7 linked regions of the Homo sapiens genome follow. The protein of the gene in region 4 interacts with the protein of the main gene of each other region in a biochemical or structural test. Each region holds a gene or a part of one and is shown on either strand. Other genes may lie near its edges.

Region 1 (4,902 bases), on a different chromosome or scaffold from region 4:
GGAAGATCAATAAATTGAAAGAGAAACAGGAGAATTGAGGGTATACAGAAGGAAGTGATTAAAATAATTGCATGAAAAAATTCAAGTAAGGAGGAAAATGAAAATATGAGTGTACTGGCTTGAATTGTGTCTCCCAAAAAGATATGAGGAAGTCCTAACCCCCGGTACCTGTGAATGTCACCTTTCCTGAAAAGAGAGTCTTAGCAGACCTTATCAAGTTAAGATGAGGTCATGAGGGTGGTCCCCAGCCAAAGATGACTAGCGTTTTTTTAAGTACAGAGGACAGAGACATAAAGGGAGAAGATGGCCATGTGGTAACAGAAGCAGCTGTTGGAGTGATACACCTATAAAACAAGGAGTTCAGGCTGTCAGCAAACACCAGGAGGTGGAAGAGGTAAGGAGGATTCTTCCCTACAGGTCTCAGAGGGAGCATGGCTCTGCTGACACCTTGATTTTTGACTTCTGGCCTCCAAAAGTGTGAGACAATAAAGTTCTGTTTTAGGTCACTCAGCTTGTAGTACTTTGTTAGTGCAGTCTTAGGAAATGCATTCATTTATATGTTGTCTGTGGTTAATTTACCACCAGAATGGCAGAGGTGAGTGGTTGTGATAGAGATTGCATGGTCCTACAAAACCTAAAATATTTCTTATTTGTCCCTTTATAGAAGTTTGTTAACTCCCTCATCTAGAGTTTGGAAATGGGAATGAAAGGCTGAAGTAGGCTACAATCCAATGCAAGGTTGCACATAAGAAGCTCTGAATAAGTGTAAACATTATGTGCATTCAAAACAGTAACATTAACTGTGGACTCTGGAAATAAGAAAAGGAATCGTGTTGGAGAGTGAGACTGAGCCAGTTGGGAATAGACAAAATTACATTCTCAAGGGAGAATTTCATTTCTTGGTGAGGAAAATTATGCCCTTTGGGCTGGTAAATACTGTCTCCTCTTGAATAAAACAGTGGTCTGGCCACCTGTTAGACACTGAGAAGTCTAGACTAACACTCAATGTATTCGGATGTTTGCTCACTATTTCCGATGGAAAAGTCTGGTTTGATTGTTAAAGTAAAATATTTGGCCTTTCAGAGTGTGAAAACACCATTGCTTCATTGCAAGGTTTAATATAAACCCATTTTTCTTGCATTTTCTTTTCTTTCTTTTGTAGTAAAATGTGCTTGAATAATATTAACTATTCTGACCATTATGTGAACTAAATATATATATATATAAAATGATGATACCTTCCGCTCATTTGCAATGTGCTTTTGAATACATTATATAATTTAATCCTTAAAACAGCCCTATAAATCTGTTTTTTTTTTTTTTAAACAAAAAAATTCTGCTTTACAAAGGAAGAAGTTGAGACTCAGTAAAATTAAGTGACCATCCCAGAGTCTCAGCCACTTAAGAGTAGGGTGAATCTTGGATAATTCTGGTAGCAAATTTATTTATTGGTAGAAAATAAATGCAAACTACTACTGCTTAAGATCCTCTAAAGTTTTTCTCTTGGAAAAAGAATGTATTAGAATTGTGGACTTTCTCAGTGCAAGGATTTATTTATCCTTGGAATTAGGCAGAATAAACAATTGAATGCCAAAAATTCAACGTGTTTCTTTTCTGTTTTCAAAACTCATAGAAATTGTAAATATGAGCAACTGATCATGTCTCTGAGAATTAACTCTTTTTGTACAGAGCGCTGCAGAGCTTTGATTGTGACCTGATACTTGGTCCTTAAAGATTCTAGAACACCAATGGAAAAGAAAACCATGTAGCAAATTAGCCCAAGAACCGTTAAAGACAAAACAAAACAAACCAAAACCAAAACACACAAACAAAGAAAACACAAGGATCCCAGTGATGTCCCTAAGGAATAGTTGGCTTAAAAACTTTCTGGAAGGAGGAGGGGTCTCTGTTATAAACTTCCGCCCTCCTCTGGCTTCTGTTCCTTACCCTCTGCCCCCTGCGGAGTTGTGTTTTCTGGGAATCAGCAAGTAAGATCACAAGTGGTCTTTTCTTTTATTCACTCTCTCCCATAAAGAAAGCTTTATCACGTGTGGCCTTAAACTTGCAGCAAATTGCAAAGAAATGGCTCAAAAGCTTCAGCTCTTTCTGTGCCCTGGGAGCTGAGATGCACGTCAGTGGCCTTGCCAGCGTGGCCAATTCTCTGCTGACTGCCAGAAAAAAGAGGCCAGGAAGAAAGAGGAAAGAGAAGAGATCGCTCAGGGGTGAGACCATGCCCTTCATCTTTTCTTTTCCCTAATCTCCTCTGCTTGTGTCCACCCACACTCTCCCCACCTGGCAAAATTGTTCAAAATTGCTGTGGAGTTTACCTCAGTTTCCTCTTTCAGTCTGTGGTGTGTGGTCCATCCTCTTGCTGAGCACATTGAAAGGAACTGGCTATCTTTGATCTCTTCCTCCAGGTAAGACTTGGTTCTCTCATTTTATATTTTGTGACTAATACATCAGATTCTTATGGGAGATTAACCCTTAATTTCTGTGCGATTTATGTTTTATCCATAAAAATATCAGTGAAAGGTGATGATCCCCTCATTAGTTTGATGGAAATAAGAGAGAAGATTGGTTAAAGAAATCAGATAAACTCAAATTTGAGTTCAAATTTTGAGTCTCATGCTTATAAATTGTTTAGCTTTTGACAAGTCACTTAATTGCTTTGGGCCATCTAATTTAAAAAATGGAATTCTAATATTACGTTTGTTGGGTTGTTTTAAGGATTAGAAAAAGTACGTACATTACTCAACACAAAAATAGTACTTATTAAATCTGAATCTGACACAGATAATTTGTATTAGGTGAGAAATTAGTTTCTAAACAACACACACTCCTCTGCAGCAAGTGCCGTGAGGCTATTTTTTAGTTTGTCTGAAGGGAGGCATCCTGGTGTCCAGAAGTCAAGCCAGGACAGAGGTTTTCCTCACAGGAGATGGCCAAGAGAAGAGAGGGAGGAGCGTGGTTGCCTTTAGGACTTTCTCTGTGGCAGTCCTTGGGGACTGATTGCTGGACAGAGTCCGAGTCAGTTGCAGAGCAGAGGGGTTGAGTACATCTGCGGGATCTAACTACAACCTTCCTAAGCCACTTGCTCTCTCCATTTAAAATCTGGAGGGCTGATTTTGAAACTAATGAGGACTGATTATTCAATGTTTTTGAACCAAAGGAAGAGAAACTGCTTGGCTTGTTTTTCTTTGGCCTCCAGAATAAGTTATGCTCCAAACCCAGGGTATTGGATGAAAACTGTCGTATGTCTTTTCCTGGAAGAATCTATTCAAGTGGCCAGAGATCAATTAAGGATTTGCCAAATGCAAATAATTCTGAATAACTGTGTACTCTTGCTCTACTTCTGCAGTTGCAAATGAAGAGAGAGAGCCTGCAGGCCCCAAGGATCTTTCCGTTCATGTCATTGAGCTTCCTTCCCTCTCTTTTTACAGGGGATGAACTGTAGCCTCCTTGGAACATACTACACTTGCAATAATTTGCGCATTAACCATCAAGACACTTCAGTAAAGCTATGCAGTGCCAATAGTTTAAGCTGGATCCTATTTTGCCCTAACACAAAGTGAACTGAGATGACTATATTTATATTTCATTATACTTTTGAATTTTAGTTACAGTGATTTTTGTGTCAACACCTCCATATATTAGATAACTTAAAATGTGCTATAGTATCTCAAGTTTTTCAGTAGTGTTTTTAACATAATTATTTTTTCTCTTTGACATTAGCATTCTAGATGTAACACTTTGGATCTTTTAAAGATAAATTTAGGATAAATGATAGCAGATTTTATTATTAAACAATTTATTTGTATTTTCTGGTCACTGACTTTAATATTATGACTGATGAGAAATAATATGATATCTGAATCCCCAAAAACAGAAGGCCAATTTGAATTATATAATTTAATCCTTTGAAGAATATTGCAATTTAAGCCAGAAATTTAATAATTATCCGTTTCTTATTTTAAAACCTTTCTGGTTTGTATATCTCTTGCTTGGCAATATTTTTACTCATAGTTTTGTAGTAAAGATACCTATTTAACATTGTATAACTCTGCATTTCCCAAACCCTGTTTTCCTTGTCCTGGCAAAATACTGTTCTAGAAAAGTAGTCCTAGTGACTCAGTAGATATAGGAAGTTGGCTGTTGGTATCAGATACTGTTAAGGAAGAATCTCTATATTCTTCATTTCTTAAACTTTGTTTTTTAAATCAGTAATAGATGTCGAATTTTATCAACTGATGTTTTTCATGTAATGAAATTCTATTTTTTATTTTGAATTATTCATGTGGTAATTTAGGTGAATAAATTTCCTGTAATTAACCAATTGTTGCATCTTTTAGAATAATTCTAATCATAGAGCAAGAGTTAATTTGGATTTGCTAGCATTTACTTAGAATTTTTATAATCTATGGGCTTGATCTGAAGTTTTCCTTTCTGTGCTATCTTTGTGCTGTTTTGTTACCAAGATAATGTTATTTTTGTCAAACTAATGGAGACAATGATTATCTGTTTCCATTATCGGCTATCTTTCCTCAAAGAATATCCCTTGATAAAGCACTTCTGGTGCATCATCTATCCTTAGTATCTTTGTTTAGGGAATAGTTTCAGAGTATTTTTGATAATGTCTTTCTTGGCTATTTTCTCTTCTGGTTTTTATCAATATAGGTAATGAATATTTGCTAGAAACTTATCCATTAAGTCAAGATATTAAACTTACTTCAACATTCGATGCATCTTTTTATGTTTTATACTCCTAAATATCTGTGTTTTATCTCATTAATATTATGTATTTATATCTTTGTTTTTTGTCTTGATTAACATTATTAGCTCTTTGTTTTGCTTATTTTTTGTTTTTAAATTTTTCTCTTTCACTCACTCTTCTTTTTCAATTAA
Region 2 (4,946 bases), on a different chromosome or scaffold from region 4:
AACAGACTAATACACTGCCATCTGAATAACTCAGCTGCCACCATGCCCATTCTTAAGTCATTCCACTCAAGATTAAAATTCCACAGGAGAAAAGTAAAAGGACTATCTTAGACCGGGTGTTGACCCACTTGGTTAGAAGAAAAGGCATATGCTGATCAACAGCCCCACCATGATCTCAGGTAATAGATAGGAGTCATTCTCCAAAGGTAGGGTGAACACATGTTAGAGTGTTGCCCTGGACAGTCCCAGTTTATAACTGTTTTTTTTTTTTGGGGAGTAACCATAAATAGCATCACTTTTCACCTGCACAAAACTGTCCAAGTTTGGATCATAAATTGCATGATCAATTTACACAAAGGAAATTTAGGGCATCGTTACCAAAGTAGCAATGCTGAGCAGAGACAAATAGCTACCATTACAATGAGGCTATTAGAAGGGGTCAAAACAGAGTATTTTGCCCCCAGTCTCTCACAACCAAAAGATGATAACCAGAGTCAAAAGTCCCTATTGGTCTTTAGGTTTTGACTACAGCATGAAAATAACATTCCTATACTCAAGTGTTGAATTATTATGACTTTGACCCAATAGTTCCGGTCCCTTTTCTTCCTATGTCCTTGCAGCTAAGCCACTAAATGTTAAGGTGTTCTCTTTCACTGCTGCTTTTTTAGCTTAATTGGCCCTCCTGCTTTCCAAAATAGAATGCTAACACCCATTCACCCAGCTGAAGGGTCAGGGTGATACCAGATCCAATATTCCCCAAAGCCTGTGTAGGCTGGTTGCTGTATCCCTGACTACTGATTAATAATAAAGGAGTTAAATAGCACCTTTTGATTCTGATTTCCTCTGAGAGGCTGTTCTACAAGCATGGGGTCAACTAAAAGGAAGCAGGGTTTCGTTTAATATTTTCTCCTTTCATTAGTGCACTTAAATTACTTTCTTGTAAACTCTGCTTGTTACCTAAATGTACTAGCACTTTTGTTACCTAATTAAGTTTCTTATCAGAATTCCAACCAAAAATAACAAGAAATGTAATAATGATAAGATATCGTGCCCTTCAAAACAGATTTCCTTTTGCGCTTTATCTCTTGGTACTGTTCTGGCTTGTTTAATTAAAGTATCAGAAATTATTAGACTCAAATTATTTCTTGATCTAGTGCTCAAATTCTCCCGAAAACCTGCTTCTTCTGCCTCAATATTTAAACCTTTATCAGTATGAGGCAGATGAGTTTCCACATGTTTGCAACTGGATTCATGTAATTCAATACAATTTTGGAGGACGATCCTAATTTAGCCGCTAAGTAATTAAGCAAACAAATCAGATTTGGGTACACTGAGCTACTGTGAACATTTAAATACTCATGCTCTTGGATCATCAAAAGGAACAACGTCCATGTGCAAAAAACAAACCTTATGAAATTCTAGCATGGAGATGTGAAATTCAAAGCAACGTTCTTATTTTTTTCATCAGAGGGATGGGGCTCAAAATATCACCAAGTTCAAACCACTAACATAAGTTTTGTTCAAGGAGGGTAGTCATGTCTGTTACAGGCTTTACCATAACTGATGAGAAAGTACACTTATATCACAGCATTGAGAAGGAGAAAACTGTAAGACATATTGGCGATTTGTGTTCCTCACACTCTGTGAAAAAAATTCAGGTTGGAATCTGCTTGCTTCTGGTGGAGCTGTGTGAGAGGTTCACGTTCTTTGAAGTCGTCTGCAACATGATCCCCTTTTGCACTATCAAGCTTGGCTATCACAATTGCCAAGCAGCCATCTTAAACTTGTGTTTTATTGGAACTTCAATACTTACCCCTGTGTTTGTCAGATGGCTCACTGATGTCTATTTAGGAAGAAACAAACTGGTGTACATTTGCTTGTTTCTACATTTTCTAGGTGAGTGTCCTCTGCTGACTGGATTGTTTTGTGACTTAATTAAGTAGATTTTTGTTAGAATTTTTAGTTTATATTATTTTCACTCTGCTCTTAGCATAAAATGTGATAAATGAAGTAAGAATGTGGGTTCAATGTATTTCATTCTTTGTACTATTTGAAGAATGCTAGTAAGTCTGTGTGTGTGTGTGTGTGTGTTAGAGAATGTTTTGTGCCTATATCATTGCATTTATATTTTATAATAATTACTCCTTTACATATCTATCTTACTCCTTAGAATGCCCTCCTTTCCCAAAACCTTTTTACCTCAAGCCTAAATTCATGACAAATTCCCTCAGAAATGTGAAATGTATTTGCTTCACAACTAAGATGAAATGTGCTAAAAAAGGTTTTTGAAGTTCATGTAAAATAATTGAGAAATGTTTTTATCCAAAGGTGGTCTTTTAATTAGTCATATAGTAATTAAGATTGCATATGATGGCATGATTTCTATATTTTTAACTATGATTATATGCTTTAGAAATGAGTAAATTAGACACTATAGTGTGCATCTTTACATATATACTAATATATATCTGCAAAAGTTTGGGACCGATTGTGAGAAATGCTGGGAAAATATCAAGATAGTTTAATAAGAAATAGAGAGCAACTTGAAGAACAGACTAGAATTTTAAACTGAAAAGTTCAAGTTATTCTTCTTAAGCAACAAGAAGTCTCTGAAAATATCATGAAAACAACATTTGAGAAATGCTATTCTGCAATACAGGATGGACAACCACAGTGAGGAATTAAATAGAGAGAGATCAGAAAATCTCAGGATGATGGTTTAAGCAATAAAGTGCCAATTCAGGAGAGAACAAGTGAAAAGCTGTAAGGCAACTAAATAAAGGTACAAATGTGATGGGGGTCAAAAATTAGCTCCAAGTTTCTGATCTGAGCAACTTGGGAATATAGCATGCTGTTCACCAATAATGAGAAGTGCAGCTGAAATGAGTATTGGTAGGGGGACAGATGAGAAAGAGATGGATAGATATCAGGTACTCAACATATCACACAATCTCAGGCAGGTGGTAAATTACCATTCAGAGAATCCATTGGAGTTTAAGTCAAACCTGGAAACTTCACAGCTTTAGTTCTGTGGAATAAAAACTAGGTCACTGCATGGCAAATAATCACTCAACATTCAACAAATATTTCTTATTGACTACTCTGTACCAGACATTATTCTGGGTCTGGAAATGCAATAGAGAAGAAAGTCGTCTGTTCCTGCTAAAGTTGACTTTTTGGTGCAGGGAGAGAGAAAATAAAAGAGGAAATAGATATGATGTCATGTGGCAATGAGTTAGGATGGAAAAATAAAGCTGGGTAGGGGGACAGGATGGAATGGATGGTGATGAGGCTGCTACTTGGTACCGAGAAAAAGTTTTCTGATAAGAAGACATTTAAGCAAATCCCAGACTAACTTACTCTGCTTACCTTGGTAACAGGCCACACCAGTAGCATTTGTTGACTTCTTGTTTAACATGGTAATTTCTATCAGTCTAAATTCTGAGGTCAGTCATCAGACAGGATGGAAATCCCAACTTTGGAATCTGGCAAACAAAAGACTTAAGTCAACTCTACATCCATTCATTTTTTTACTAAAAGTTATTTCTTTGTTGCCCTCCACTTACAGCTGCCATCAAATTCCAACTGTCACTAAATTTCAGAGGTTATATATAAGAAAGGTCTTCTGTCTGAATTGCTACTACCCTAGCTGAAAAAATGCAGCTTTCTTCTTTTTAACCATTCCAATGGCCTACTTACTCGGCTGCCAGTTCTCAGTCAGTCTCCAGCTTGTACTCCATTCTACCAACAACACTGACTTCCTGAACAAATAAATCTCTATATTGCTTCTATTATCTAAAAAATGAAATCCAAACTTATTAATTTAGCATACAACAACCTTACCAACCTATTCTAAGTTCACCTCTCTAGACTTGTTGTTCAACACGCAACCCCAACCTTGCTAACTTCTCCTGGCCTCCTTCCCTAGTTTTCTAATCTTGTACATGCTCTTCTCTCTTTCTGAAATTGTCACCTTCCCTTATCTTTCCATCCCTTATCCATGATTGGAAAACTCCTGCTATTCTTTCAAGAACCAAATAGTGTTTGTTGCTAGCTTCTCTGTGTTCAACCACACCCATATAATACTTATACGATTGCATCCATCACTTTATAATATAATTGTCCACCTGCATGGCTGACTTCTCTGATGGACTCAACATTTCCTTCAGCGGACCCCCATCACCTGGCAGGGGGTATGACACATCATGGTGCTTCTACAGAGCTACTAAATGCAGGCATACTGATGATGAGATACACAATTGCACACATCACAGAGGAGACTTTTCTTCATATATGTCATTGTTTTGTCTCTTTACTGCATCATTTTACAACAGATAGGGATAAAGTTTTGATTTAACACAATCAGCCTATTATGACATTTTCTCAAAAGATGGAAGTAAAGTGCCTAAGTTACACAAATATATCATTCAAACTAAAAGTGCCTTGTTCCTAATAGTTCCTGCATGAAATAGTTGTCCTGTCCCTCCTCTTTGGACATCCCTTTGTCTAGCCAGGCCTCACGTCACACCTACAGAAGAGAAGACTAAGTGGTAGAAAGAGAGCAGTTAGTTTCATATCTGGCTAACCTTAAAAGGGAACATTTCAAACTCAATAATTTAAAGGGCTCACCTCATGGTAAATGAATCTGTTGCCAAATAGCTATTAAGGGCATATAGTCTTTACATTGTGAAAGCCTCTGTAGGGGAGATGGAAGCATTAGACCAAATTTTTATCTGTAAGGAATTTATAATCTAATTGAGAAAACAAATCACATGAAATAACTGTATAAAAATTTATACCAAATAACATTAATGCCAAATTAATAAAATGAAGAGCAAAACGAACATGGAGGAGCCATTTTTCACTAATCGAATCATCAAAACAAAAAAATTAATGATGCTAACTAGTATGAATGAAGATCTTCTCATACAATGATGGTAGGAGAT
Region 3 (2,944 bases), on a different chromosome or scaffold from region 4:
TACATCGGCTAAAGTAAGACTTGGCCCACAAATACCTATTTGTTGCTGAATGAATACAATGGATAAAGCAAGGCTGTTGTAGCTGAAGTTACATAGGGAATCCCAAACTCTGCCCTCTTAGCATCTTATTCTACATGACAACTCTCAAGGTACTCACAGATCTGTTTAACCCACTTGAAAAAAAAACACTAAAAATGAAGAAATGCTATAAGTATAAACTATGATTTTATTTATAAATTCTGTATTAAAATGGAATTATATGCAACATTCTTTCATTCTGTAAACTAATTCCATTTGCATTCCTCATAAGCATTGTAGTAAATTGATCATATTACATGTACTAAGGAATGAGATTATATGCAGTAAACCCAACTGGAAGATTAACAATATTAAAATATGAAACATTTTTAAGACAAAGGCATTACTTCTCAGTATTACCAAACCTAAACTGGTTGAAGGTGAAAGTGTGCTATGGCCTTTTCAAGCCTAAGAAGTCTCTCTTACTGAGTAAACCAGAGGCTTGCATCGCTATTCTTTCACCTGTCAATATTAATAAGAAAATAGTCTCATCTCACTTAAATGAGGCAAATGTAATAGTTAAAATTCAACATACTTATAAAAAACTAGTGTCATGTACCTGCCATGAACATGACAAAAGGTTAGTCTTCAATAGACTGAAATGTATAAGAGAAGAACCAAGTCTTACATAGAAAAAAAAGGTAGATATGAAAAGAAAAATCACAGAAGAGAGAATGCAAATGGCCACTAAGTATATGAAAAAAGTCGTATCTTAACAGTGAACAACTGTGTTAGTCTGTATCAATCAGAAGACAGAAACAAGGTAGTAATTTAAACAGGGAAAGTTTAATATAAATAATAATTAAGCTATGATAGGAGAATAATAATAAAGATGAAAAGAGAAGGTACCCTAAGGCTGAGGGAAAGAATCCTAACAAGGAAAGGCAGGAATGAGGGTTTCAGAATTCACTGGAGAAGGTGTGGTTGCAGCCCACTGGAGAGAAGTTTGCTGGCTTGCCCAGGCCAGAGCAGGACCACAGATACTGGACAAGCTGGTACAGCCAACCCCCTAGGTGTGGACCAGCTGAGGCAGGTGGGCAGATATGCAGAGGGACTTGGGGCTTTGCCAAAGGGTAAGCACAAAGAAGGAGTCACGGGTTCTGTTCGAGGCACTGTTGGGATTAGGAGCCGGAGGGACCTACTTTGCAGGAACCTAGCATAACTTTGTGTGACGAGACTGCACAAGACAAAGCTCAGGCAAGTGGCTCAGTAGTTGGCCAGCCCAGCAGGGTCCTCTGTATGAGTGTGCACCCAGCTGAAGAGAAGAAATGGAGAGCAGCAATTGGAGCTTCAGGACCGGCTTGCACTGTGGCTCCAGGTTATACCACCACTGCCCAAAGCAAAAGCTAGAGAAGCAAGTGGAGAAATGCTGGAGAAAGCTGCACCCTACAGGCAACCAGCACTGCAGAAACCACTCCAGGCAAAGTAGTGAAGGAAAAAAGCCTGCTCTCCAGTAGCCTGGCCTGTCAGCCTGGAGGAATCAGGAAAGACCCCTTCCTCTTGCAGTGTGTCTCCAGCGCCCTCTACTGACAAAGTATGCCATCATGCAAGCTGCAAAGGAAACATTTCAAGAGTCTATATCTATTTTCACGGAGCGGGCAACCAACAGTGAATGTGGAGCTGAGAGACAGTAAAATAATAACTGACATGCCACCGAAGTACAAAGTAAAATAAATAAATAAATACACATTTTGGCCTATTAGCAAAGATTAAGAAATGATAACATTAAATACTCAATAAATCACCATGAGATGGGGACTCAAACTTCTGGTAAAAATACAAATAGATATAATTTTTCTTGAAGGCAATTTAGTAGTCTGTTTATCCTATAATTCTACTTGTAAGATCCTATCATATGAAAATAACCAGAGATACAAAGACATTCTGCAAAGATATGTTTTATATTGTTATTTATTGTGACAAAAGGAAATAAAAAGCCTAAATGTTCAGAAAATTATTTTAAAAGATGAAAGAGGGAAATAGGCCATGGACGGTGGCTCACGCCTGTAATCCCAGCACTTTAGGAGGCCAAGGTAGGTGGATCACTTGAGGTTGGGATTTCGAGACCAGCCTGGCCAACATGGTGAAACCCTGCCTCTACTAAAAATACAAAAAATGAGCCGGGTGCAATGGCAGGCACCTATAATGCCAGCTACTCGGGAGGCTGAGGCAGGAGAATCGCTTGAACCCGGGAGGCGGAGGTTGCATGAGCCGAGATGGCGCCACTGCTCTCCAGCCTGGACGACAGAGCAAGACTCCGTCTCTAAAAAAAAAAAAAGAGGGAAATAAACATTTATTTGTATATTGTTATGTAGCCATTAAAATTCTGTTTCCAAGTAATTTTAATTACAGGGGTAAATTCTTATATATCTAAATAAGAATATACACATACACATGTTCCAAAATATTTATTATGTACTTAAGGCATATATATTATATATGTATGTGTGTGTATATATATATGTATTTGTGTGTGTGAACACTAATATTTGCATATATATACACACAAGAAATAAAAACATGTTAAAAATGGCTATATCTGCATTGTAGAATTATGAGTGATTCATGTTTTTCTAACTTCCCTATCTGTATTAAGTGTTCTATAGTTTATATTTGTTACTTTTTACATCAGGAAATAGTAAAGTTATTATTTAAAACTTATGAACAAAAAAGTAACAAGCACATGCAAGCACAGAGTTCTACCAAATGCAAAAAATTTCAAATCAATTATTCAAATGAGACATTAACATCACTTCTGTGGTAGTTTTATATCCATAAAGTCTGATTCTTCTCCTTTGAAGAGATGAAGCTTAATCTTCCTCATCCTGAAAATGGGCTGGACTTAGTGACTTACGTCTTTTTATTT
Region 4 (3,737 bases):
CTAGAGCAAGGAAGAACTGGCTTCCAATTTTAGCCCTGCCACTGACTAGCCTTGTGACCCTGAGAACATTTCCAAATTCCTGACTTGTTATCTGTATGCCTAACACCTACTATATAGTAATTGTGAGGATCATACGTAAAGTGTCTTTAGCCAACTAGGTACTCAGTAAATGGTAGACAGTATTGCTATCATTTCTGTGAAAGGTGTGACACCCTGCCTTTCATATGAGTGACTGTCATGCACAGGCCACTGGATGTTTCTCAGTTCAAAGAGTTAATAGAAGGCAAGTCCCAACTAGAAATCTTTTCATACTTTATCATTTCTTTCTCATCTTAGATGCTTCCTTACCCTACCCTCTTTTATCTCAAAATAACTCATTTCTTAAGCAGAAGTTTAATTAAATTTAGCAGCTCTACTTAAATTGAAGTGTTTCTATTTCTCCCAAACACACACACACACGCACAGAGAGAGAGAGAGAGAGAGAGAGAGAGAGAGAGAACTTAAAATCAGCAGACTATTTATTACATAGTCCAGATTGTCTACTCTAGAATATAGGTTATGAATAGCTGTGCCACCAGAACAGAGAATTCATAGACTTCAATGGATATTAAATAAAACATGGAGTAATTGAAAGGCTAGAAGTAATGTGATACTAACATAACCAATAGGCAAAAGACTGCTGAGGTGATAGCTATTTAGAATATAAGATATAAAGTGAGAAGTAATATGAAAAAAACTACAGGAGGGAAGTCCTTTTCCCAACCCTCAGTTTTGGATGTTAGACATTTGTAGAAAAAAAATTACAAAGCTGTAGGATTCGGAGAGTTCTAGACTTGCCATTAATGTTCAGGCAGAACAAAAGCTGAATTGGGCAAAAAACACGACATCCCCACCCATTTTGTTTAGACTGTCTATAAAAATGACTTTATTATGATCTTTGCAGCACCCATCTCAGACCACATCTTTCCATGGTTCTCATGAACCTTAACCCCTCCTATTAAATCTTATACTTCCCGCTTTATTGTCACTATAGATGTGAGAAACAGCTGATGGTCATCTTTGTTTACAAGCCATTACAGGTTTGAACAAATTCAAAATTGCCTATTATTAAGCCTCCGCAGGAGCTACTGGGCATAAGCAAACCTAAGATTTTATAACCCAGCAATTATCCTATAGAAAATAGTCCAGATTATTATATTCTGCCACACCTTTATTCATACTTGACTCCAAAAAGTTCTCAATTATTCACAGGGATAATCTAGAAAATAAATATTAGTTTTGCTTTCAAAGACATTACTGGAATGAGCAGGAACCTGCATCTTTGTTATATTAATTAACTTATTATTTAGTTTTCCTGTCTGCTTAGAAATTGGCTGTTTAGGTTGAAAAATGATTTAAGAAGCATAAACTATAACACAACAATTTAAATAAAGGTCACTATTGCTGTGAAATGGGATGTCAGTTTTGCAATTCTTCTGCACTTTCCCACCAAGCTGGGATCTGGGTGAGTCTAGAGATATTTGTGAAATAAGCTAATTTGAAAGGACACCACAATCCGTCAAAAGCGACTTTCTTCCTCTTCCACAGCACGATGAAGGCCAGGGATAAATTTCAAGAGTTGCTTTCGGACACTTCCCTTTCTGCTCTTCCGGGGCAGGGTCCCAAACATGCTTGATAAGTTGCCCTCCCACAAGGGAGACATGGATCCGCTGCTGGTGTTACTGATGCTCCGGTTCCTCCTTGAAGATGACCTCCTCAGAAAATCATCCCCCTCCTTGGGGATAAAGCACTCATCATCTGTACTCGTCTGCCGACTGAAGGCACCCCTGCTGGAGTCCTCAGACACACACGTCTGGTAGCCATCTTCACTGTCCATCGTCATGGAGCTCAGCCAGCTCTTACAGCTGCTCTCACTGGATAATCGATTCCGGTCCACAAGGGCTGGGCCTGGCCCAGGCAGGGGTCCAAACAAAGACAATTCATCCAAGTCCATGTTTTCCAAACTGGGGCAATTAGCTGCATCACCTAGAGCACAAAGTCTACTGTGAAATGGATCTGTTCATTACTCCCTACAAATAAATACACTACATCAAAACTTCTCTTTGAATGACACGAGAAAGAGTAAGGGTGAAAAATACTTTTCACTGAGCTTTGGCGTGCTTGAATAAGTAACTGTTTATGAGACCATTTGATAAACCTTATAGTAGGGTTTCCTGAACTATTGTTCATAGACCAAGGTTCCATGGTCACAAAAATTATAATATTAGAATAAATTTAAACAAGATGTTTCATATGAGAACAGTTCAGCCCAATTGACAGTCTACCAGTGTGGCATCTGAACCTCCAAAATGATCATTTCTTAAATTTAAATAACCCTGAAACCTTTTATTAAAATTCTCACAGAAATGGGGTTCCATAGAATACACTTGGGGAAATACTATCATGATTTTCTCCACTTAGTTTCTCTGATTCTTAGGTACTGTCTTTTAAAAATAATTCTAAAATTATTATAAAACCATTTGAAGTAAATAGAAAACAGTTATGGAACAGGTAATTCAAAAGTGTTTCTTAGAGAAAGGATTTGTGAAATCAAATGTATCTTCCAACCTCAATATTCCCAGTTTCGTTTTGGAATACTTAAATTCTCTGGAATGATACTGTACCCAGAAATCATCCTTGTCCTCAAGTAAGTAATAATTTATTTGAAGAAATTGAATTTTATCTGCTTGGCTAAATTTTTTTCATTGATCCTTAACAACGTACATCTGGCTCTTCAAACTCTAATGTTAATCACATACCAATATGACCCTCCCTGCTTCCACACTAACTGAGTTGGTTGGTATCTTGTGTGTGTGTGTGTGTGAGAGAGAGAGAGAGAGAGAGAGAGAACTTGTAATACCAGCCTTGGAAAAACGTAATCAGTAAGTGACTATGCTTCAGAAAAAATAATAGAATACTGTACACTCTAAAATGGTTTTATTTTGTACTGATTATCTCCACTGCTGCTGTCTTTTGTCCTCGGTTGACAATATAAAAAGAAACTGTTCTTTCAGATGATTTGCAAGGTTGAGTACAGCCAGCCCCATGGTGACTAGTCATAATGCTTTCCTTTTTGCTAATACAACCTACTTCATTTCATCTTGCAATAAGTGATGAATTTCTTTTGATTGGAGAGCAATTGCCTTATAGAATCACATGCCCTGGATGTTTACTATACATCTAGAAAAAGCAGAACTCCTTCAATTGCTCAAAAAATATGTACAACAATGACTTTATGAGGATCCTGACCTAACAATGTTGTCTATACAAGGCTGTTTCTATAGAACAGCAAGAATTTATATTCACTGGGCCATTCAGGATGCTCCAGAAGTGGAAATGAGGCTAAAAAGCCCTCATGTCTAAAGAAAGCAAGGAGGTGGCTGAATTTACAAGGCCATAAAGAAGTTTTTGTATTAAATATTTCTGCCTCTCTAACAAACTTCACTACCCAAAAGAACTATTATGAATTTTTTAAAAATATTAAATGAAGACATAAAAAAGAGAAGTAACTTGTACATAAGTTTCAAACACTTCAATTTAAAAAAAAAAAAACAGAAGTTCATACCAGAACTCTAAGCCATAAATTAGTGACTAGTTAAGGATTAAATTGTTATCTTTTTTGGTAAACAAATTGATTATCACTTTTAACAGATATTCTAGGTTACAGACTTAAGCTTGGTGCTATTTAAAGAAGAGAT
Region 5 (4,251 bases), on a different chromosome or scaffold from region 4:
CTCCCAAAAGTGCTGGGATTACAGGCGTGAGCCACCGCGCCCGGCAAGTTTTTTTGTAGATATGGGATGGCACTATGTTTCCCAGGCTAATCTTGAACTCCTGGGCTCAAACGATTCTCCCGCCTCAGCCTCCCAAAGTGCTGGGATTACAGGGGTGAGCCACCGTGCCCAGTGATGTATTTATATAAAATGGCAAGCACTTGTTGGTGACTGGAACTTAGGAACAGTGGGGCTGGCTGCTTCCCTGGGGTCTGAACCTATTACTGGATAACTCGGGGCAAGAACCCAGTGGACAGTGGGGCCTCATGGGATGGGGAAAGGAGAGCCAGTGGCTTACGGACCTCGTAGAGGTGCCCCTTGGCCTTTCTGGGGGTCTCGTCCTATCTGCTGAAGAATGCCCGTCTTGTTCTACTGTAATGGAAACTGGACATGTCCATCAGTAAGGGAGTGATTAAAGAATGATATTTGGCTGCTTTGCAGTGGCAAAGTGAAATCCACAATGGTGTACTGAATGGGAGTATCCCCACAGTACAACACTATTCATGTAGTGGAGGGGTGGTTGTAGAAAATAAACATAGCATGGGCTGGGTGCAGTGGCTCACGTTTGTAATCCTAGCACTTTGGGAGGCCAAGGCAGGCGGATCACGAGGTCAAGAGTTCAAGACCATCCTGGCCAACATGGTGAAACCCCATCTATACTAAAAATACAAAATTAGCTGGGCATGGTGGCGCACGCCTGTAGTCCCAGCTCCTCAGGAGGCTGAGGCAGGAGAATCACATGCACCCGGGAGGCGGAGGTTGCAGTGAGCCGAGATCATGCCACTGCACTCCAGCCTGGCGACAGCAAGACTCCATTTCAAAATAAAAGAAAAATAAAATAAACATAGCATTGGCCCATTCATTTGTTTATTGTATTTTCAAGTCAGGGTCTTGCTCAGTTGTCCAGCCTGGAGTGTACTGGTGCTGTCCTCCCACGTCAGCCTCCCGAGTAGTTGAGACCACAGGCGTGAGCCACCATGCACAGCTAATTTATTTGCTTATTTGTGTAGAGATAGGGTCTCTCCATATTGCCCAGACTGGTCTTGAACTCCTGGCCACAAGTGACCCTCCTGCCTCGGCCTCCCAAAGTGCTGGGATTACAGACATGAGCCCATTTCGATGTTGTTTTAAACTCTGGCTGGGCAAGCATGCTTTAATCCCAGTGCTTTGGGAGAATCCCATGAGCCCAGTAGGTCGAGGCTGCAGTGAGCTATGATTGAGCCACTGCTCTACAGCCTGGGCAAGAGAGTGAGTCCCGAGTCTGTGTTTCCAAATACACAGCAAGATGCGGGGGCCAGGTGCTCACTCCTGTGATCCCAGCACTTTGGGAGGCTGAAGTGGGAGGACCTCTTCAGCCAGGACTTCGAGAGCAGCCTGGGCAACATGAGGAACCCCCGTCTCTACAAAAAATTAGCAGGACATGGTGGCGCGCCTGTACTCCCAGCTACTTGGGAAGCTGAGGTGGGAGGACTGCCTGAACCAAGGAGGTGGAGGCTGCAGTGAGCCAAGATCACAGCACTATGCTGCAGTCTGGGCGACCCCTGCCTGAAAGAAAGAAAGAGAGAGATGAAGAAAGATCTGGAACAATATAAGTCACACTTGAGGGGGGAATGGTGGAAGTGATGCGGCGTCCAGGTTATTTATCCTCATTTGAATTTTTTATAAGAAAAATGTGTTTGCCGGGTGCGGTGGCTCAAGCCTGTAATCCCAGCACTTTGGGAGGCCGAGGCGGGCGGATCACGAGGTCAGGAGATCGAGACCATCCTGGCTAACACCAGTAGTGAAACCCCATCTCTACTAAAAATACAAAAAATTAGCCGAGTGTGGTGGCGGGCACCTGTAGTCCCAGCTACTCAGGAGGCTGAGGCAGGAGAATGGCGTGAACCCGGGAGGCGGAGCTTGCAGTGAGCCGAGATGGTGCCACTGCACCCCCGCCTGGGCAACAGAGCGAGACTCCGCCTCAGGAAAAAAAAAAAAAGAAAGAAAAATGTGTTCACCTACTACCTACGTAACAAAATTACAGTTACAAGACCATTTTAAACATCACACACACACACACACACACACACACACACACACACACACACACACACGGTAGACGTGTATGGTCATGCACAGAGTGAGATTTGGGGTCAGCAGTACACAGCTGCAATACCCCCTGCACCACATCCTGTCTCTGTGACTCAGACAAATTGCTTACCCTGCCAGACTTTGGTCTTTATAGCTGGAGATCAGCCCTTCTCAACCAGGGGCAGTTCTCCCTCCCAGGAGACACCTGGCACTGTCTGGGGATGTGTGTGGTTGTCACAACTGGGGGATGCTCCTGGCGTGGAGTGGATGGAGGCCAGGGACGCTACTCAGCGCCCTGCAGTGCCCAGGTCGGCCCCACCCCAGAGAGTGACCTGGCCCCGATGTCACAGTGGAGAAAGGCGGCTGCAGAGAGAGCGATGCTCCTGTGAGGCGTCTTCCACCAGCTCCTGAGGCTGCAGCACAGCGCTCCGCCCGCCCTCATCTCCGGGGAGAGGCTCTTTGAATTTTCTCACTAAACAAACATTGATTGCGGCCCCAGGAGAAACGAAGACGGAAGGAGCTGTGCTGGGGAGCAGGGGTTTTAGGGTTGCGTTTGGTGCGTCTGTTTGGTTTTCGCCACCCTGCCTCTTTCGAGTCGTTGGTCTCTTTCTGGTTTTTGTTTTTTTGAGACAGGGTCTTGCTCTGTCACCCAGGCTGGAGTGCAGTGGTGTGATCTCGGCTCACTGCAACCTTGACCTCCCAGGTTCAAGGGATCCTCCCACCTCAGCCTTCTGAGTAGCTGGGACTACAGGCGTGCACCACCACGCCCGGCTGATTTTGGTATGGGGTCTCACTGTGTGGCTCGGGATGGTCTCAAACTCCTCAGCTCAAGCATTCTTTTTGCTTTGGCCTCCCAAAGTGGTAGGATTATAGGTGTGCGCCACCACGTGCGGCTTTTTTTTTTTTTTTTTTTAATTGAGGAGTCTTGCTCTCTCGCCCAGGCGAGAGAGAAGTGGCACGATCTCGACTCACAGCAACCTCTGCCTCCCAGGTTCAAGTGATCTTCCTGCCTCAGCCTCCCGAGTAGCTGAGATTACAGGCATCCACCACCACGCCCAGCTAATTTTTTTTATTTTTAGTGGAGATGGGGTTTTACCATATTGGCCAGGCTGGTCTCAAACTCCTGACCTCAAGTGATCCGCCTGCCTCAGCCTCCCAAAGTCCTGGCATTACAGGCGTGAGTCACCGCTCCCAGCCCATGTCCGGCCTCATTTTAAGTAATTCTTTTAAGGTAGATTGATAAAAACTGAGAATAGAAGCAGCTTCCACCTGGCCCTGGCTCACTGGAGCTCCCGTCCTGGCACCTCCTCCTGGGCTGTCTGAGCCCTGGCCATACCTGCCCTCTCACCCTGTGTGTCTGCGTCTTCAGCCTGGAGCTGGTGGATGGAGTCACGTGTATGCTTTAGAGGTCTCAAAGCGTGTTGGGTTTTCTAGAACTGCCTTCGGCCTTTCTCTCCAAGCCTAGCTGGGCAGAAGTGGCCAGAGAGCGGCAACCCGGGCACCCCTGAGTCCCAGGATTTCTCCCCCGGCTCCTCCCACCCATGTGAATGAAAGCCATCCCAGGGAAGGCTGGGCTTTTGCAGGAGTCCTGGAGCAGCATGGTGGGGAAATCCAGGCTCCCCAGCCAGCCTCTCCAGGCTCCTCCAGCCCGCCCTCTCTAGCCTCAGTTCCACTTTCCTCTCTGCTGAGCACAGAAGAGACGCACGCCAGACGGTGGCAGTGGGAACTTGGCCTGTCACCCCTGCTGTCCTGGGGGTGGCCTGGCAGGTGTGTCCGGAGCCTCTGCCTCTGAAGAGGCACCTTGGGTGGCTCCCAGTGCCTGGGGTTTTGGCATTTGGGGGTTTTGGTCCCCAGGTTTGTTGCCAGGCAGCCTTGGGCAAGACATGGAATTTCTGTTTCATCATTTATGACATGGATGTGGGGCCACACCCGGGGACCAGCCTACCCATGATGACTCGTTTCCAGGCCCTCCGCAGGATGCCCGGCACAGTGGCGAGGAGACCACAGGCTGTGGGGAGGGGCCGAGGTTACCGTCACCTGGGCTGGCGTCACTGGGATCCCTCCTGCAGTCCATGCACCCCCTGGCCCCTGGTCCTACTCGGCCTGGCCTTTCTGCCCTAGGTGGCAGGGACAGGCGCAGGG
Region 6 (4,251 bases), on a different chromosome or scaffold from region 4:
CCCCACACCTGATTGCCAGGGAGGGCACATTCTAGGACAGTAGACAGTAGACACACACCAGGGCCCTGGGAGCCACGTTCCTAAGGGCCTCTTGCTTTAAAGGACAAATGCATCCTTTCCACAAGGGCTGTCTACCAGGGGATGTCTGACATCTCCTATCACTCAACTCCAGCCCTGGACTAGCATCTTGCTCCATAAGGATTATACAAGACTTGTTCATGAACACAGGACTGAGGCCAGAAATGCCGAAGTTCTGCAGAAACCGACAGCTCTTGGTCACTACCAAGCAGCCTGTAAGAACCTAAAAACAAATGGCAAGCAAGGCACTCAGCAGAGATTGCTTCTTGCCTACCCAATAGCTATCCCTCCATTCTTCCTCAGTAACTGAACCTCTTACTGAGGCCAGCAATGCACCCAGCTAAAACATGCCTTTTCTTTTTAATTATTTTTTGAGACAGGATCTTGCTCTGTCACCCAGGCTGGAGTACGGTGGCGTGATCTTGGCTCACTGCACCTCCGCCTCCTGGGTTCAAGGGATTCTCCTGCCTCAGCCTCCCAAGTAGCTGGGATTACAGGTGCATGCCACCACACCTGGCTAATTTTTGTATTTTTAATAGAGACAGGGTTTCACCATGTTGGCCAGGCTGGTCTTGAACTCCTGACCTCAGGTGATCCACCCACCTCAGCCTCCCAAAGTGCTGGGATTAAACGTGTGAGCCACTGTGCCTGGCCAAAACATGCCTTTTTGACCTCTCTTGCACATGCAAGTGGACAATGAGATGCAAGTTGAAGTCACAGGTTAGGGCTTCCAGATAGCTGCTGAAAGAGGCACGCTCAGCTGAGGCACACTTCTGCCTTACCACTCCTTCCTTCCTCCTGCTGCCTGAAACAGGGACATGATGGCTGCAGCTGCATTGACAGGCGGTGACTGGGAGGATGGAAGCCACACCCCATAGATGTGGCTCTGAAGATGGCAGCACCCCCCGACCAAGCCGAACACACACCTTCAGACTTGCGCACAAAAGCAAAGTAAGACTCTCTTTTGTTTAAGTCCCTGTTGTGGAGCTCCTGGATCCACAGCAAGCCCCATCTGGAGAGCCCACTGGAAAATGAGCTCAGCCACTTGCCTTCAAAGAGTGGAATGGAGTCACTGGAAAAGGCATCCAAGGCGAGCAGGTCTTTCCCGTCCTTGGACCCGCTGCGTTTGTGCTTGTGTTTCCTCCGAAAAAAGGACCGGCGTGCAGCCGCTGACAGCGTCTTTGTGGCGCTATTGTCATCTTTGACTTCAGACATGCTGAGCCTCCTGGAGAATTCTTGGTCCATCCTGTGGCACAGGGGACAATGCTGGGCAGGGCCATCGAGACCCTGCTGCCCTGCCCTTCCTGCCCTTCCTGGTGAGAAAAGCAAAGGTGGGCCAGACACTGGGCTCCCCCCACACTCCTTGGCAGGTCTCAAGGCTACATCTCCTCCCACGCCCCTGGGAACCCTCGGTACATGCTGCGGGGGTGACACAAACACCAGCACCAGGGCAAGCTCTCAGAGCAGGCGATTTTTTCTACTACAGCATATTCAGCTCGGTGTCAAAAGGAACTGCTAGGACAGCCTTCAATTGGTGACATGACGAGTTACGCTTCCTGCCATAGAAGGGAAATGATGCAGGGATGCAGGCTGCCTCGAAAACATGCTCAGTGACAGGAGCCAGATGAAAGGCCACACTATGCAATCCCAACCACACAGAAGTCCAGACAGGGAGACCCATGGGTATCAAAAGTAAAGTAGTGGCTGCCTAGGGCTGAGGGCTGGGTGGGAGGACAGTGGGATAAGGGGCTGACAGCTAATGGGTCTGGGGTTTGTTTGAGGTGATGGAAATGCTCTAAAATTAACTGTAGTGGCGGCTGCACACACCTATCAATATGTTGAAAACCACTGAATGGTACACTTTGAGGGAGCGGCAAGGCACGAGTATCTCCATAAATCCATTTTTCTAAAACACGTTATGCCTTCTGACCCATCACTGTGCTCTATACAGCACTGACTCACACTAGGAGCAGCTTTTTAGACCAGCACTTTTGGCAAAATGTAGAGAGCAGAAGCTAAGATAAGAAGCAGAATCCCTCCTCCAGCAGCCCTGGCCCCAGCCCCCTCCCATGGGACAGCTCCATGGCTGGTGGCCCTCGGCGACCCCTGCCCCACCCCACCCCAGGCCCGGAGAACACTTACACATATTTGCTGGGAATCTGCCCGCGCTGGATCTTCTGGGCATTCTCGTCCAGCTGCCAAGCCATCCAGGACCCGAACGTGCCCTGGGGTAAGGTGTCATCCACGTAGAGGATGTCGTCCTTCTTAAAGCTCAACTCTTGCTCCACATCTGCCAGCCGGTCGTACAGGGCCCTGGACCACAGCACAGAAGGAACACGATCAGGCGGCTCTGGCCACCAAGGACGAACCAGGTGCCTTCTGTGGCCAGGCCCCTAAGGCTGCCATTCTGCTTTGGGCTGTCTCCAAACTTGATCAGGAATCGCCGAGGGTGGTGATTCTCAAAGTGGGGAGCCCTGTGTTTTACATAAAGGGGCAAAGACTGCCTTTGCTCCCCTAACACTGAGGGCGCATCCCCATCAAAGAACTCACCAAGATCTGAGGCCATAACTTCCCTTTCCAGGTGGCCTTTCCCAGTTGCCTCCCTCCTCGAAGCCCAGGCCCGGCCCCTGGTTCCTACAGACTGGAATCTCTCTAGGATGGAAATATGTCATCTTCTACCCTAGAGACAGGGAGTTGTACCGCATCAGTGTTCTCATGCTTTCTGTGATCTTGGATCTTAGGAAATGTGAAGAAAGCTCTGAGCTCCTCCTAGAAAGCCTGCTGCCATCCCTAAATGCCCACAGCATTTCATACAGTAGTAAGGGCACTGAAGATGCCTGGAAGTCCACACACACTGCAGAGGGATCTGCAAACCTGGCTTGGGGGACACCAGAAAAAGAGGAGCACAGCACACAGGAAAACGGGGCTTGACTGCCTCCAAATTCTCTAGGTCTTAAGCCCTAAAGAGGGGGCCCAGCTGGTTCTTTAAGCCCTAAAGGGTTGTTCTAAGTCACAATCATCTCAACATAAATAAGCGTGCAGATTGAGTGTCAAGGAATGATGATCATGGCCCCAGCCTTGGGGGGCAAGAAACAGAGAGCCATTCACCAGGAAAAGAGTCTCCAGTGAAAGCCTCTCCTCTGGTTCCAAATCTCCCACCGATTCCCCAGCCACTGGTACCTGATGTAGAAGCTGTCACCAGGCAGGCCCTTGGCCTTCGTGAACTCCTCAGGGCGGTACTGCACCTTCAGGCGGACGCCATCCCTGGGCTTCAGCATCTCCACATAGACTTCCTCCACTGTCTTGTTCCGCACGTCCAGGCTGCCATACTGCCAGGGATGGGGGTGGATGCATCAGAAGGCAGAAGCCAGGGGGCAGCTTGGGCACCCGAGAGGGGCCAGTGCTGACCATACGGCAGAAATTCAACATCCCTCCTTAACTGAGACTCTGGCTACCTCCCCTCTGCAGGAAGGACTGAGTCTTCATGGTCTCCCCAGTCTCCAGGTCCTGTGCATGCTCCCTGGACACCAGGTCCTCTGCCAAGTGGCTGCCCTGCCCTTGACAGCTTATCCAGGAAAAACCCTGTTCTGGTGACTGGCAAGTCTGGGCTTTTCAGAATAGGGACCTTCCTCTTGCTGATGTTGCCTGTGCTTTTATTTATTTATTTTCTGAAACAGGGTCTCCCTCTGTCACACAGACTGAGTGCAGTGGTGCAATCACAGCTCACAGTAGCCTATACCTCTTAGGCTCAAGTGATCCTCCCACCTCAGCCTCCAGAATAGCTGGGACAACAGGCACACTCCACCACACCTGGCTAATTTTTTTGTTTTGTTTTCTGTAAAGACAGGGTCTCACTATGTTGCCCAGGCCGGTCTTGAACTCTTGGGCTCAACTAATTCTCCCACCTTGGCCTCCTAAAATTCACAGGTGTGAGCCACCAAACCCAGCCCAACTTGTGCCTTTATATTCTCACAAACCATCTCCCCCATGAGGCAGGAGACCACAGAGAAAGACCATCCTCTCTCATCAGAACAGAGTCCTGCAGCTACATCACCTGAGGGCGAGCACCCCCTGATGCCCAGGGCCTGAGCCAAGGCTCTGCCCTCAGGTTCCCTCAATGGCCTGCCTGGCTTCACAGGGACCTCCTCAGAAGGGCTTGGCAGGATTCTGGGT
Region 7 (4,251 bases), on a different chromosome or scaffold from region 4:
CCCTGTCAGCACTGTGAAAGGCTTGGGATGGATAATCTGGGAACCTCTGGGCCTCAGTTTCCCTGTCAGCGCTGTGAAAGGCCTGGGATGGATAATCTGGGAACCTCTGGGCCTCAGTTTCCCTGTCAGCGCTGTGAAAGGCCTGGGATGGATAATCTGGGAACCTCTGGGCCTCAGTTTCCCTGTCAGCGCTGTGAAAGGCCTGGGATGGATAATCTGGGAACCTCTGGGCCTCAGTTTCCCTGTCAGCGCTGTGAAAGGCCTGGGATGGATAATCTGGGAACCTCTGGGCCTCAGTTTCCCTGTCAGCGCTGTGAAAGGCCTGGGATGGATAATCTGGGAACCTCTGGGCCTCAGTTTCCCTGTCAGCGCTGTGAAAGGCCTGGGATGGATAATCTGGGAACCTCTGGGCCTCAGTTTCCCTGTCAGCGCCGTGAAAGGCCTGGGATGGATAATCTGGGAACCTCTGGGCCTCAGTTTCCCTGTCAGCGCCGTGAAAGGCCTGGGATGGATAATCTGGGAACCTCTGGGCCTCAGTTTCCCTGTCAGCGCCGTGAAAGGCCTGGGATGGATAATCTGGGAACCTCTGGGCCTCAGTTTCCCTGTCAGCGCCGTGAAAGGCCTGGGATGGATAATCTGGGAACCTCTGGGCCTCAGTTTCCCTGTCAGCGCCGTGAAAGGCCTGGGATGGATAATCTGGGAACCTCTGGGCCTCAGTTTCCCTGTCAGCGCTGTGAAAGGCTTGGGATGGATAATCTGGGAACCTCTGGGCCTCAGTTTCCCTGTCAGCGCTGTGAAAGGCTTGGGATGGATAATCTGGGAACCTCTGGGCCTCAGTTTCCCTGTCAGCGCTGTGAAAGGCTTGGGATGGATAATCTGAGAACACTCGCTGCCCTGGAAGGTAGGGGAAGCCAGCCCTATGCCATCGGGTAGGGTGGGGTTGGGTGGGGACAGGGTCGGGGTACAGGACTCGGGTAGGGCTGGGGCCAGGCCCCATCTTACCTTGCTGATGGCCTTCAGTGCACGGCTGGCAGCCTTGTACCTTTCGGAGTGGCCCTGGGTCTTGAGGCAGAGCGTCTGGATGGACAACAGACATGGGACAGAAAGTCCCCTCTGGCATCCCAGGTGTGGAGGCTCCCACCAACGCCAGACCCCGTGTGGGGCTGCAGGGTGGTCAACAGCTGCCCCCAGGGGGCTCCTGCAGGGCCCCACAGCACGTACAGCCCCTGAACGGCCTCTGCACCACCTGGAGCTCTGCCAGGTCAGGCCAGGTTGAGTGGGAACAGGAGCTAGCACCCCTGCCTGGAACCCTTCCCTTCCCATCCTCGGCCATCTCCATCCAACTTGGGGAATCGTCAGTGGAGGCCCCCTGGCAGCCCCATTTCTGCACATCCCTGGGGCCCCCAGGAGTTTGAGGTTCTGTTTGGCTTGGGCAACCCTGCCATGTGTAGCCTCAGGAAGCTTAGCTCAGTCCTGCCATGTGCGGGGCTGTGTGTATGGGCAGCATGCACATGTGTGAATATGCCTGTGCACCATGTGCATGCATGTGTGTGCATCCACGTGTATGTGTGTGCACCGGGTGCATGTGTGTGCAGTGCCTGTGTGTGCATGTATGCAAACGTGTGCATTGTGTGCACATGTGCATGCATCGGTGCAATGCAGTGTGTGCAAGTGTGCATGCATGTGTGTACTGGCGTGCATCCATACATATGCATTGTGTGCACATGGGCACATACGTGCCTGAGTGCGTGTACACTGTATATACATGTGTGCGTGTGTGTGTACACCTTTCACCCTCATATACCCTCTGCCCTGTGGGCTGGCATCCCACACACACAGCCCATGCTGGTGAGCCTCTCTGAGCCCCTCTCTGCGTCCACAGAACAGGGAGAGTAGGTGCCAGGGACAGGGCTACCACGTCTAGGAGGACTGGTGGGGTGGGGGCTGGGAGGAGGCTCAGCAGGGCTCTGGGTGATGCCAGTTCCAACTCGTCAGTGTGCCTGAACCTCATGAACCATTGAGTAAGTGAACACAAATCCGCCAAGGGCTGGAACAGTTCCCGGCACAGTGAGCTCTGTGGGTGGCGGCGACCACAAAGTTATCCTGGTTAATAAAGCCATCTTAGGATCGTAACTATTACAATATCATAGGCCAAGCCTGGAGGAGAAGGTCACAAGCACGTAATGCTCCATCCGGGGCAGGGCTCTGGCCGTGGGACCCCAGGATGGTATGCCCGGCCCCACCCTCAGGCCGTGGACTTACATCCATCAGGAGGGGCAGCCGGGTCACCCGCTGCATGGGGAGGATCAGGAAGGAGAGCATGGGCAGGCCCCCGCACGCCGGCCGCCTCTCAATCTCTCTCAGGGCCTCTCGGAAGGCGGCGTTGCTGCTTCTGCAAGAGGACAAGGCTGTCCTTCCAGGCTCTGCATGGCCAGCCTGTACCAAAATCAGGCAGGACCTGCAGAAGCTGGGCTGGGAGCAGGAATGTGCTTTGGGAGACCAGGGTGCAGGATGCTCCTGAGCCACCCTGCGGGCCTCGGGGCCGCCCACTCACATCAGCTTCTGCAGCGTGCGCTGTTGGTAGACCTCGTTGGAGCAGTAGGCGATGTAGGGGTGGAAGTGCTTCTCAGCGTGCTCCTCCAGGATGTCACTGATGTCCTCGACCAGCACCTGGGCCTTGTGCCGCTGCTCCAGGTCCTCGAAGAACCTGAAGGCAAGGAGGGGTGAGGAGGGTGCCACGGGCCTGGTGGTCGGGCCCCACGTGTGCACACACAGACATGCATCTGCATGCACACTCACACATACATGGACGTGGCAGGAGCTGAGCTCAGCTCCCAGAGGCAGCACACAGCAAGCACTTGGGGCGGGACCCGGACCTGGGATGCTGGACAGCAGGGAGGGCGGGTGGGAAGTGGTCAGAGGCCTGGGGCTCCTTACAGAGCCCCCTGCCACGATCCCACGCACTGGTGCCGTCCCTCTGTTGTCCAGGGGCAGCCCCAGGGACTGTCCCCAAAGGCGGGCCCATTTGGACCTCCTGTCCTGGTGCCCTGTCCAGTTGGTGCCCTTCGCCCTTCAAGCTCCTTCCAGCTAAAACGACTGGGCCTCCACACAGGCCCGGGCCCCCGCTGCCGCACCAGCTTGCCCCTGGGAAGAAACTCAAGGACGGAGACTCAGGGGACAGGCACAAGAGCAAAGAGGGGCGATGCCTGGGGCCACCCCTTCCAAGGATGAGTCCCAAATCCGAGGCAGCTCTGCTGGTCAAGCTCCCAGCTGGGTTCATGAACTGTTTACTTTCACTAGGTCCCCCACCCCGTTCTGAGGGAACAGTCAAGGCCGGGGGGGGGCCAGCTGTGGGCTCTTGGCAGACTCCCTGGAAGGGGCTACCAGCCCCTCACCTCCCCATGACCCAGGCCTTGGTCCAGGGTGATCAGGATGAAGGGAGTTAACACTTGGTCAGAGCTAGGCCAGGGCTGCCAGGATTCTGCCCCCATGGGCGGCCACGGCCACCAAGGCTGGGCTTGGCTGGACCCACGATGGTCACCTGCTGTGTGAGGCGGTGGCTGGAGCCTCGTCCATCCTGCAGACCCTCAGAGCACCCAACCCGAGACCACATCCGTGTCTCCAGGCCGCCGCCACAGGAGGTCCTCCCAGCCCAAGAGCTCTGTCCTTCGGAGGACTCCCTTACCCAGCGTGGAGGTGGGCGGGAGTCCCTCCTCCTCTGCTCACGGGGCCCGACTGGGCCTGCCACCCACGCAGGAGCCACGCTTCCTGCAGGGAGAGTGTCCTGACAGCTGCTTGCCCTTGAGAATCCCCAGCAGATGGAGCTGCAGTCCCCGTGGACGAGGACCCAGCAGGTCATGGGAGGCCTCGGTTGCTGGATGAGCAGGGCCACGACATGCGTACGTGCCCAGGCCGGCCAGGCCGGTCAGCAGCTCATATGGGTGACTGCAGGTTCTGAGAAAGGTCTGGGAGAGCCGCCCACCAGCCGCTTACCCCAAATAGCGATGATTCCCCAGACAGTTCACTGTGAATGCCAGGAGCTGTCGGGGGCCCAGCTGGGGGAGGAGGCCGGAGCTTCCCGCCCCAGGGCAGCAATCTAAAGCCCTGAGGAGGTCAGAGGCAAACATGCAGCTGCCTGAGGCAGAGGGGACCGGAGGACACAGAGCTCAGAGAACACAAAGCCTGCCTGGCTGGGGGCAGAGCTGGGGGAGGGGCAGCCGCTATCCCAGACCCCTCCCCCTCCCCCAGCCC

The links.
Region 1: the proteins of CYTIP (region 4) and SLCO1C1 interact in a test that uses a peptide from one of them, tested with the Homo sapiens proteins (one large-scale study listed by IntAct).
Region 2: the proteins of CYTIP (region 4) and SLC15A5 interact in a test that uses a peptide from one of them, tested with the Homo sapiens proteins (one large-scale study listed by IntAct).
Region 3: the proteins of CYTIP (region 4) and RASSF6 interact in a test that uses a peptide from one of them, tested with the Homo sapiens proteins (one large-scale study listed by IntAct).
Region 5: the proteins of CYTIP (region 4) and MAP2K2 interact in a test that uses a peptide from one of them, tested with the Homo sapiens proteins (one large-scale study listed by IntAct).
Region 6: the proteins of CYTIP (region 4) and DLG5 interact in a test that uses a peptide from one of them, tested with the Homo sapiens proteins (one large-scale study listed by IntAct).
Region 7: the proteins of CYTIP (region 4) and ARHGEF16 interact in a test that uses a peptide from one of them, tested with the Homo sapiens proteins (one large-scale study listed by IntAct).

The regions. Positions count from the first base shown.
Region 1 is NC_000012.12:20,693,391-20,698,292, forward strand, and holds the start of SLCO1C1 (solute carrier organic anion transporter family member 1C1), read left to right. Parts: upstream 1-1,941; 5' UTR 1,942-2,417; intron 2,418-4,902. UniProt on the Homo sapiens protein: Mediates the Na(+)-independent high affinity transport of organic anions such as the thyroid hormones L-thyroxine (T4), L-thyroxine sulfate (T4S), and 3,3',5'-triiodo-L-thyronine (reverse T3, rT3) at the plasma membrane.
Region 2 is NC_000012.12:16,274,275-16,279,220, reverse strand, and holds the start of SLC15A5 (solute carrier family 15 member 5), read left to right. Parts: upstream 1-1,535; coding exon 1,536-1,896; intron 1,897-2,695; exon of another isoform or gene 2,696-3,028; intron 3,029-3,369; exon of another isoform or gene 3,370-4,696; intron 4,697-4,946. UniProt on the Homo sapiens protein: Proton oligopeptide cotransporter.
Region 3 is NC_000004.12:73,572,544-73,575,487, reverse strand, and holds part of RASSF6 (ras association domain-containing protein 6), read left to right. Parts: 3' UTR 1-2,944.
Region 4 is NC_000002.12:157,414,119-157,417,855, forward strand, and holds the end of CYTIP (cytohesin-interacting protein), read right to left. Parts: intron 2,026-3,737; coding exon 1,559-2,025; 3' UTR 501-1,558; downstream 1-500. UniProt on the Homo sapiens protein: By its binding to cytohesin-1 (CYTH1), it modifies activation of ARFs by CYTH1 and its precise function may be to sequester CYTH1 in the cytoplasm.
Region 5 is NC_000019.10:4,103,037-4,107,287, reverse strand, and holds part of MAP2K2 (dual specificity mitogen-activated protein kinase kinase 2), read left to right. Parts: intron 1-4,081; exon of another isoform or gene 4,082-4,251. UniProt on the Homo sapiens protein: Catalyzes the concomitant phosphorylation of a threonine and a tyrosine residue in a Thr-Glu-Tyr sequence located in MAP kinases. Activates the ERK1 and ERK2 MAP kinases.
Region 6 is NC_000010.11:77,804,538-77,808,788, forward strand, and holds part of DLG5 (disks large homolog 5), read right to left. Parts: intron 3,408-4,251; coding exon 3,259-3,407; intron 2,392-3,258; coding exon 2,221-2,391; intron 1,635-2,220; coding exon of another isoform or gene 1,559-1,634; exon of another isoform or gene 1,362-1,558; intron 1,325-1,361; coding exon 1,128-1,324; intron 1-1,127. UniProt on the Homo sapiens protein: Acts as a regulator of the Hippo signaling pathway.
Region 7 is NC_000001.11:3,471,534-3,475,784, reverse strand, and holds part of ARHGEF16 (rho guanine nucleotide exchange factor 16), read right to left. Parts: intron 2,708-4,251; coding exon 2,555-2,707; intron 2,393-2,554; coding exon 2,263-2,392; intron 1,078-2,262; coding exon 1,003-1,077; intron 1-1,002. UniProt on the Homo sapiens protein: Guanyl-nucleotide exchange factor of the RHOG GTPase stimulating the exchange of RHOG-associated GDP for GTP. May play a role in chemotactic cell migration by mediating the activation of RAC1 by EPHA2.